Homo sapiens: one gene and its partner. The protein of the gene in region 1 purifies or fractionates together with the protein of each later gene. This does not show direct contact. Each region holds a gene or a part of one and is shown on either strand. Other genes may lie near its edges. The genes, in order: ZNF625 and GGPS1.

Region 1 (3,826 bases):
TTTCTGCCTCAGTTTGTACACCGGTATGGGCAGTGACAGTCTATATGCCTGCCAGAATCACTGCATGTATTTTTTTTTTTTTTTGACACAGAGACTCCCTCTGTCACCCAGGCTGGAGTGCACTGGCACAATCTCAGCTCACTGCGACCTCCCCCTCCCAGGTTCAAGCGATTCTCCTGCCTCAGCCTCCCAAGTAGCTGGAATTACAGACCTGCGCCACCATACCCGGCAATTTTTGTATTTTTAGTAGAGACAGGGTTTTGTTATGTTGGCCAGGCTAGTCTTGAACTCCTGACCTCAGGTGATCCACCCGCCTTGGCTTCCCAAAATGCCGGATTACAGGCATGAACTACTGCACCCAGCCGTGCATGTGTCTTTACTATAAATCTGGAGGGCTTTTCTTTTTTTTTTTTTTTTTGAGATGGAGTCTCACTCTGTCGCCCAGGCTAGAGTGCAGTGGCGCATTCTAGGCTCACTGCAACTTCTCCCCCGAAGTTCAAGTGATTTTTCTGCCTCAGCCTTCCAAGTAGCTGGGATTACAGGCTCCTGCCACCGCACCTGGCTAATTTTTGTATTTTTAGTAGAGACGGGTTTCATCATCTTGGCCAGGTTGGTCTTGAACTCCTGACCTCGTGATCCACCCACCTCGGCCTCCCAAAGTGCTAGGATTACAGGCGTGAGCCACCGCGTCCCGCCTAGGCTTTTGTTTTCTGACCTGGTTGGCCTAGTAGCATCTCCTTTCTCAAGCTGAGTAGAAGGCATGAGAGCAGACATCCTTGTCTGTGTCTCATCTTTGGGAGAAAGCAGTTAGTCCTTCACCATCACGAATGAGGGTAGTTTTGCATTTTTTATATATACCTTATAGTAAGTTAAGGAAGTTACTTTGTATTATTAGTTTATTGAGTTGTTGTTGTTTTTTTTTTTAAGATGGAGTCTCGCTCCGTCATCCAGGCTGGGATGTGCAATGGCATGATCTCGGCCCACTGCAACCTCTGCCTCCTGGGTTCAAGCGATTCTCCTACCTCAGCCTCCTGGGTAGCTGGGATTACAGGCGCATGCTACCACGCCCAGCTAATTTTTTGTATTTTTAGTAGAGACGAGGTTTTACCGTGCTGGCCAGGCTTGTCTCGAGCTCTTGACCTTGTGATCCTCCCGCCTTGGCATCCCAAAGTGGTGGGATTACAGGTGTGAGCCACTGCACCCGGCCGAGTGTTTTTATCATGAAGAAATGTTGAGGTTTGTCATATGCTTTTTCTGCATCTATTATGATGTTCTTGTGTTGTTTGCTGTTGATCCTATACTATTATGGTGTATTGCATGAATGGATTTTCAGAGGTGAGAGCAGCATTGCTTTCCTGAATTGAATGCCACTTCATCACGGGTATGATATTGTTATAGGATTCTCTTTTCCAATATATTGGTGAGGTGTTTTCTTTTGAAATTTAAAGGAGATATTCATGTACAGTATTTTAATAGAATCTAGCATTATCTAGTACAGGATATAGTGTGTGTGTATATATATACACATATACATGTACATATGTTGCATTTATATACAGTATATGGTTTAGTTATGGTAGGTAATTGGTAAATATTACATGTAACGTGTATATGATATATAAGTGCCACATATAAACGGTATTAGCCTATATGGCATTATACTGTTATAGTGTAAATTTATATACTTTTATCCTCCATAGTATAGTGAGTTTCATTTCCTTATTAGCCTGCAGAATACACCAGTCTCATTCTCCTCTGGGAACAAAGGAGAACCTCACCCTCTTGTTGCTACAGAATGTGCCACCCAAAAATATTCATGATCTTAGGTTTAGGAAGAAGAGGCTATAATATGACAAGAGAAACACTAGGAACAGAGAAAAAGTATGTAATTTTGACTACATTAAAATTTAAGCTTTTCTGTTTTGAAAGACACAATGAAGAAATACAGGAGTATGGTCAAGGTTAGTGGTTCACATCTGGAATCCCAGAACTTGGAAGGCTGAGGTAAGGGGATCTCTTGAGCCTAGGAGTTTAAGACCAACCTGGGAAGCATAGTGAGACCATGTCTCTACAAAAAATAAAAAAAACTGGCCAGGCGCGGTGGCTCACATCTATAATCCCAGCACTTTGGGCGGCCGAGGCGGGCGGATCACGAGGTCAGGAGACCGAGACCATCTTGGCTAACACGGTGAAACCCCGTCTCTACTAAAAATACAAAAAATTAGCCGGGCGTGGTGGCGGGGCCTGTAGTCCCAGCTACTCGGGAGGCTGAGGCAGGAGAAAGGCGTTAACCCAGGAGGCAGAGCTTGCAGTGAGCCGAGATCGTGCCACTGCACTCCAGCCTGGGCGACAGAGCGAGACTCCGTCTCAAAAAAAAAAAAAAAAAAAAATTACCCAGGTGTGGTGGCATGCTCCAGTGAGCCCAGGTACTCAGAAGGCTGTGGTGGGAGGATTGCTTGACCCCAGAGGTTGAGTCTGCAGTGAGCTGTGATTGCACTACTGCACTCCAGCCTGGATGACAGAGTGAGACTCTGTCTCAGACAAAAGAAAAAAAAAAAAAAAAGAAATACAAGAGTATAGCTGATCTTAGCAGCTGAGCAGATTCAAGCCTGGTTACTGCATGGTTTATAGAATGCATGAGAATACTGCTTGCTATAGGCTTAAAAAAAAAAAGAAGAAATAAATTGCAAAGAGTATTCACCAAATGGAAGAAAAACTTGAAAATTCTACACCTGGTCCTCACATATATCCATCTCAGTTGGAACCTCAGTCTCCTTTATGACACAAGGTAAGGGCTGAATTGGCAAACAGGACTCCCAGGCATTGTGTCCCATCACTGCAGGAGGCGAGCTCCACCGTAGAACACTGTCTGGGTAATGGTGTATCCACAGTCCCCCATCTCACCCAGTTTATGGAGTGACAACAAGGAGTGGTCATGAGGAGAGAAGTCTGACCCAGAGTTCTGGATATGTGAGTGGGAGATACTCTCAGGACACCCTCCTTCCTTCCCACAGGGAGAGAGCATATTATCCCCTATGCATTCCAGACTTGTGAAGCAGGGTTTCAAGTCTAAGTCCCTGTCCCTTGTAAAAAAAGATTGTACTGAAATCGTGTTAAAAATGTCAAAGAAGGCTTTATTCAGGACAGTTGTGATGTGGGTCATGAGAACTGTAATATGGGAGAGAGATTGACCTCAACCTTGCATGCAGCAACAACAGTATTGAACCTATAGTTCAAGGGTAAATTGAGGGAGAGGATGGAACTTGGTGAGGTATCAAGGGTTACAGAAGAGAAAGCTGATGAGTTATGAATAGGGGTAACAGAACTTCATTGGGTATCACGTTTGGAGGGGCCAGGGTGGGGTTTCTCTGAACTCCCTTAGAAGGATCTTTGCTATAACTGGGTTTTGTAGGACAAGGTCAAAGCCTTGTCAAAGAGGGAGTCCTTGAGACCCCCACAGCTACCTTTTCATGGGGACAACAACAAATCCTTACATTTCTGATTCCCTTCCCACATTCCAAAGCACCCATCTCCCCTCTCTAATCGACATCTTCATCAGTGTGTCCACCATGATGTATTTGAAAGAGCTGTAGTATTTTGTTTTTCATTTTTCCACAGAGCCATGAATGGCTGCATTGGAAACTTTTCTATTTTGTTTATGAATACTTTTCATGAGAGGAAAGCACTCAATAACCACCGGAAACTTTGTTGTGTAAAATACTTAGGTCGGGCCGGGCGTGGTGGCTCACACCTGTAATCCCAGCACTTTGGGAGGTCACAGTGAGCAAATCACCTGATGTCAGCAGTTCAAGACTAGCCTGACCAA
Region 2 (3,826 bases), on another chromosome or scaffold:
TGTAAACATTCAGGGACTATATGATCTCTGAGAATTTGTATGTTGTAAGTCTTTGTGGCAGTGTATACATTTGTGTTGCAACTTATTAACACATACACCGGGCTTTTTTTTTTTTTTTTAGAAGATTCATAGCTTTCATCATATTCTCAAAAGGTTTCTGTGACCCATGAGATGGTTTACAGTATGGGGAAGCATCAAAGCACTTGCACAGTTGATGGTTATATGTGTGTGTTATTATTTCAGCCACCCATTATCATGTGCTTACCAACTGCCTAACAGTGCATACATATGTAGAAGTTTTATTCTTTTCTCCTGTTGCCATATTATACGTCTCATTTCACAGCAGAAAAACAACTGCATGACAGAGACAATGTGGTTCAAACCATTTTACCCTTGTATTCATTGACTGCTACAAAACAGGAACATTAAATACCTGATTGTCACCAAATTGGGTAGTCTCAGCACTTCTACACTCGTAATTGTGCTGGAAAAGTGGAATGCTAGCACTAATAATTAGATTTTGGTTTGGAGGGTTTTTTATTTGTTTATTCTTACTTGTATAAATTTATGGGGTGCAAGTGTAGTTTTATCACATGCATAGATTGCATTGTAGTGAAGTCAGGACTTTTAGGGGGTCCATCACCCATGTAATCACGTTGTACCCATTAAGTAATCTTTCATCATCCACCTCCTTCCCACCTTCTCACCCTTTGGAATCTCCATTGTCTATCATTCCACACTCCATGTCCATGTATACACATTATCTAGCTCCCATTTATAATTGAGAAGATGTACTATTTGTCTTTTATGTCTGACTTGTTACACTTAAGGTAAGGGCTATCCATCCATTTTGCTGCAAATGACATGATTTCATTTTGTTTTAATGGCTGAGTAATCATTCGTTGTATATATACCACATTTTCTTTATTCAGTCATCTGCTGATGGACACTTAGGTTGATTCCATATCTTTACTATTGTGAATAGTGCTGTAATAAACACATAGTGCAAGATTTTGGAAATTTTACTTTTGTGGCACGTTGTTGGTATTTACTCAGGATCTTTGGATTTGCTTGGCTGCATGTATATGAATCAGTGTGTTTATTTACTGAAATATGTGCAAAAGTCTTGTCTTTGGTGGATTAATTTATAATATAAATCCACAAAAGTCAGATTCTGCTCCTAAGTATATTTTACATTTTTAAATTTAATGCCAGCAAGAAGTTACAGTACTAGAATTGCCTTACCCCTGAGAGTATCAATGATCAGATCATAGTATCAGGTGACTGGGCTATAGAAGATGACTTTTATTACTTAACATTATGAAGTTACTAGGGCTGATTTAGAAATCGAGGAACACTGGTGAAACCCCGTCTCTACTAAAATACAAAAATTAGCTGGGCGTGGTGGTGGGCACCTGTAGTCCCAGCTACTCAGAAGGCTGAGTCAGGAGAATTGCTTGAGCCCAGGAGGCAGAGGTTGCAGTGAGCCGAGATCGTGCCACTGCACTCCAGCCTGGGCGACAGAGTGAGACTCCGTCTCAAAAAAAAAAAAAAAAAAAAAAAAGGAACACATCCTCACTGTTACAATAAATAACAGTAGCCCACACCCCCTTAGTTGTGATGTGGTGTGATACCATGTAAGCAACCTATTTCCAGTTCCCCTAACATTCTCAAGCAGCTGTATCAGAATCATACAAGATGCATATTTAAATTGAAGATTTCTAAGTCTCTGGCCCAGACTTAGAAAAAAAGGATCAGGCCGGGCACAGTAGCTAACACCTGCAATTCCAACACTTTGGGAGGCTGAGGCGGGTGGATCGCCTGAGGTCAGGAGTTTTGAGACCAGCCTGGCCAACATAGTGAAACCCCATCTCTACTAAAAATTCAAAAAATTAGCTGGGCGTGGTGGCAAGAACCTGTAATCCCTGCTATTCGGGAGGCTGAGGCAGGGGAATCACTTGAACCCGGGAGGTGGAGGTTGCAGTGAGCCAAGATTGCGCCACTGCACTCCAGCCTGGGCAACGAGCAAAACTCCGTCTCAAAAAAAAAAAACAAAAGGACCTTTGAGCAATCAGAATAACACAAAGTACATGAACTGAACTTCATTTTCTTCATTCAAAAGAAAGTGGCCCTCACTCAAGCAAATATATTCTTGTGCTTTATCTTCTGGCATACTGAGATAACTTTCTAAAGTGGTTTCCAATTCCAAAATCCAATGATGTGCAACTCATTGAACAGCCCTAACCACAAACTGCCATTAGATGCCATATTACATTTAGCCTTTTTGTTGTAGAAAAGTTGGTTAGAAGTGGGCTCAGGATTCTAAAGACTAAATCATAGTCCCAAGAAGCAAAAGAAAGAGGATAAAAGTAATAAACTTCCCAAAATGTGCCAAAGATGCTAGAGCAGTTAGATTCCTAATATGAGGACAAGTAATAATAGAAACAGATACAAAGAAATAAAGTAGAGATTCAACAGTACAGGGAGACCCTAGGAAGACCATGAGTGTTATTCTAGGAAATACTGAAATAAGACAGATTTCAGTATAAAGGGGAATATGTTTAATAAATATATGCATTTGAGTTAATGCGTATTTTAAATCAGAAATCTCTGAAATGGATTGATTGTAGAGAAACTACTAGGGGGACGAGGAGAATCCCTTTAAATTTTAAATACATAAAACATACTCATCTTAGTGCTCATTTAAAAAAGGATATGTTTACTAATTAGTGTAATCAGTTAAATACAGAGGTATCTTTCCAATTCTTTGGATGTGTTTTGACATTTGCCGTCAACAAATTAAGCCTTTTGTGGTTGATTAAAATAGGAAAAGCTTAATATAAGTTATGTGACTAAGAAAACAACTTAAAAACCAAGACAACACTTTGACCAATATAATCACTTGAATGAAGAATTTTCTAATTGAGATATAATTTACATACCACCCATTTAAAGTGTACATTTCAGCAGTTTTTAGTGTATTCACAGGGCTGTGCAACCATCACAATTTAATTTTATAACATTTTGATCCCTGCGAAAAGAAACCCTGTACTCATTAGCAATTAGTCCCTGTTCCTAACCACTAATCTACTTTCTTTCTCTGTAGATTGGCTTATTCTGAACATTTCGTATAAATGGAATCATACAATATGTAGTCTCTTGAGATTGGCTTCTTTCACTTAACATGTTTTCAAGGCTTCATAGCTGTAGAATCTTGCTTTGTTTTTTTGAGACTGGAGTCACTCTTTCGCCCAGGCTGGAGTGCAGTGGTGTGATCTCAGCTCACTGCAACCTCTGCCTCCCGGGTTCAAGCAGTTCTCCTGCCTCAGCCTCCCAAGTAGCCAGAACTACAGGCACACACCACCATGCTCGGCTAATCTTTGTAGTTTTAGTAGAGATGGTGTGAAGGCTGGTCTCGAACTCCTGACCTCATGATCTACCCACCTCAGCTAATTTTTCATATTTTTAGTAGAGACAAGGTTTTGCCATGTTGCCCAGGCTGGTCTCGAACTCCTGGGCTTAAGCTATCCGCCCGCCTCAGCCTCCCAAAGTGCTGGGATTACAGGCGTGAACTACCGTGCCCAGCAACAGAATCTTCTTTTTAAACCAGACTAGGTGTCTTTTCACAAACACCCTGCAATACAAATTCCTTTGCAGTTTGACACTGAAAGATGATTAGTTTCATGTGATCTTTATGTTTCTCCTTTTTGACAGATTAGCTTTGAAGTTTAAATCCAATGGAGAAGACTCAAGAAACAGTCCAAAGAATTCTTCTAGAACCCTATAAATACTTACTTCAGTTACCAGGTAATACTTCACTTACAGT

What was found.
Region 2: the proteins of ZNF625 (region 1) and GGPS1 purify together in Homo sapiens (affinity purification with mass spectrometry; one large-scale study listed by BioGRID and IntAct). This does not show direct contact.

The regions. Positions count from the first base shown.
Region 1 is NC_000019.10:12,149,942-12,153,767, reverse strand, and holds part of ZNF625 (zinc finger protein 625), read left to right. Parts: intron 1-3,826. UniProt on the Homo sapiens protein: May be involved in transcriptional regulation.
Region 2 is NC_000001.11:235,331,528-235,335,353, forward strand, and holds part of GGPS1 (geranylgeranyl pyrophosphate synthase), read left to right. Parts: intron 1-3,714; 5' UTR 3,715-3,737; coding exon 3,738-3,807; intron 3,808-3,826. UniProt on the Homo sapiens protein: Catalyzes the trans-addition of the three molecules of IPP onto DMAPP to form geranylgeranyl pyrophosphate, an important precursor of carotenoids and geranylated proteins.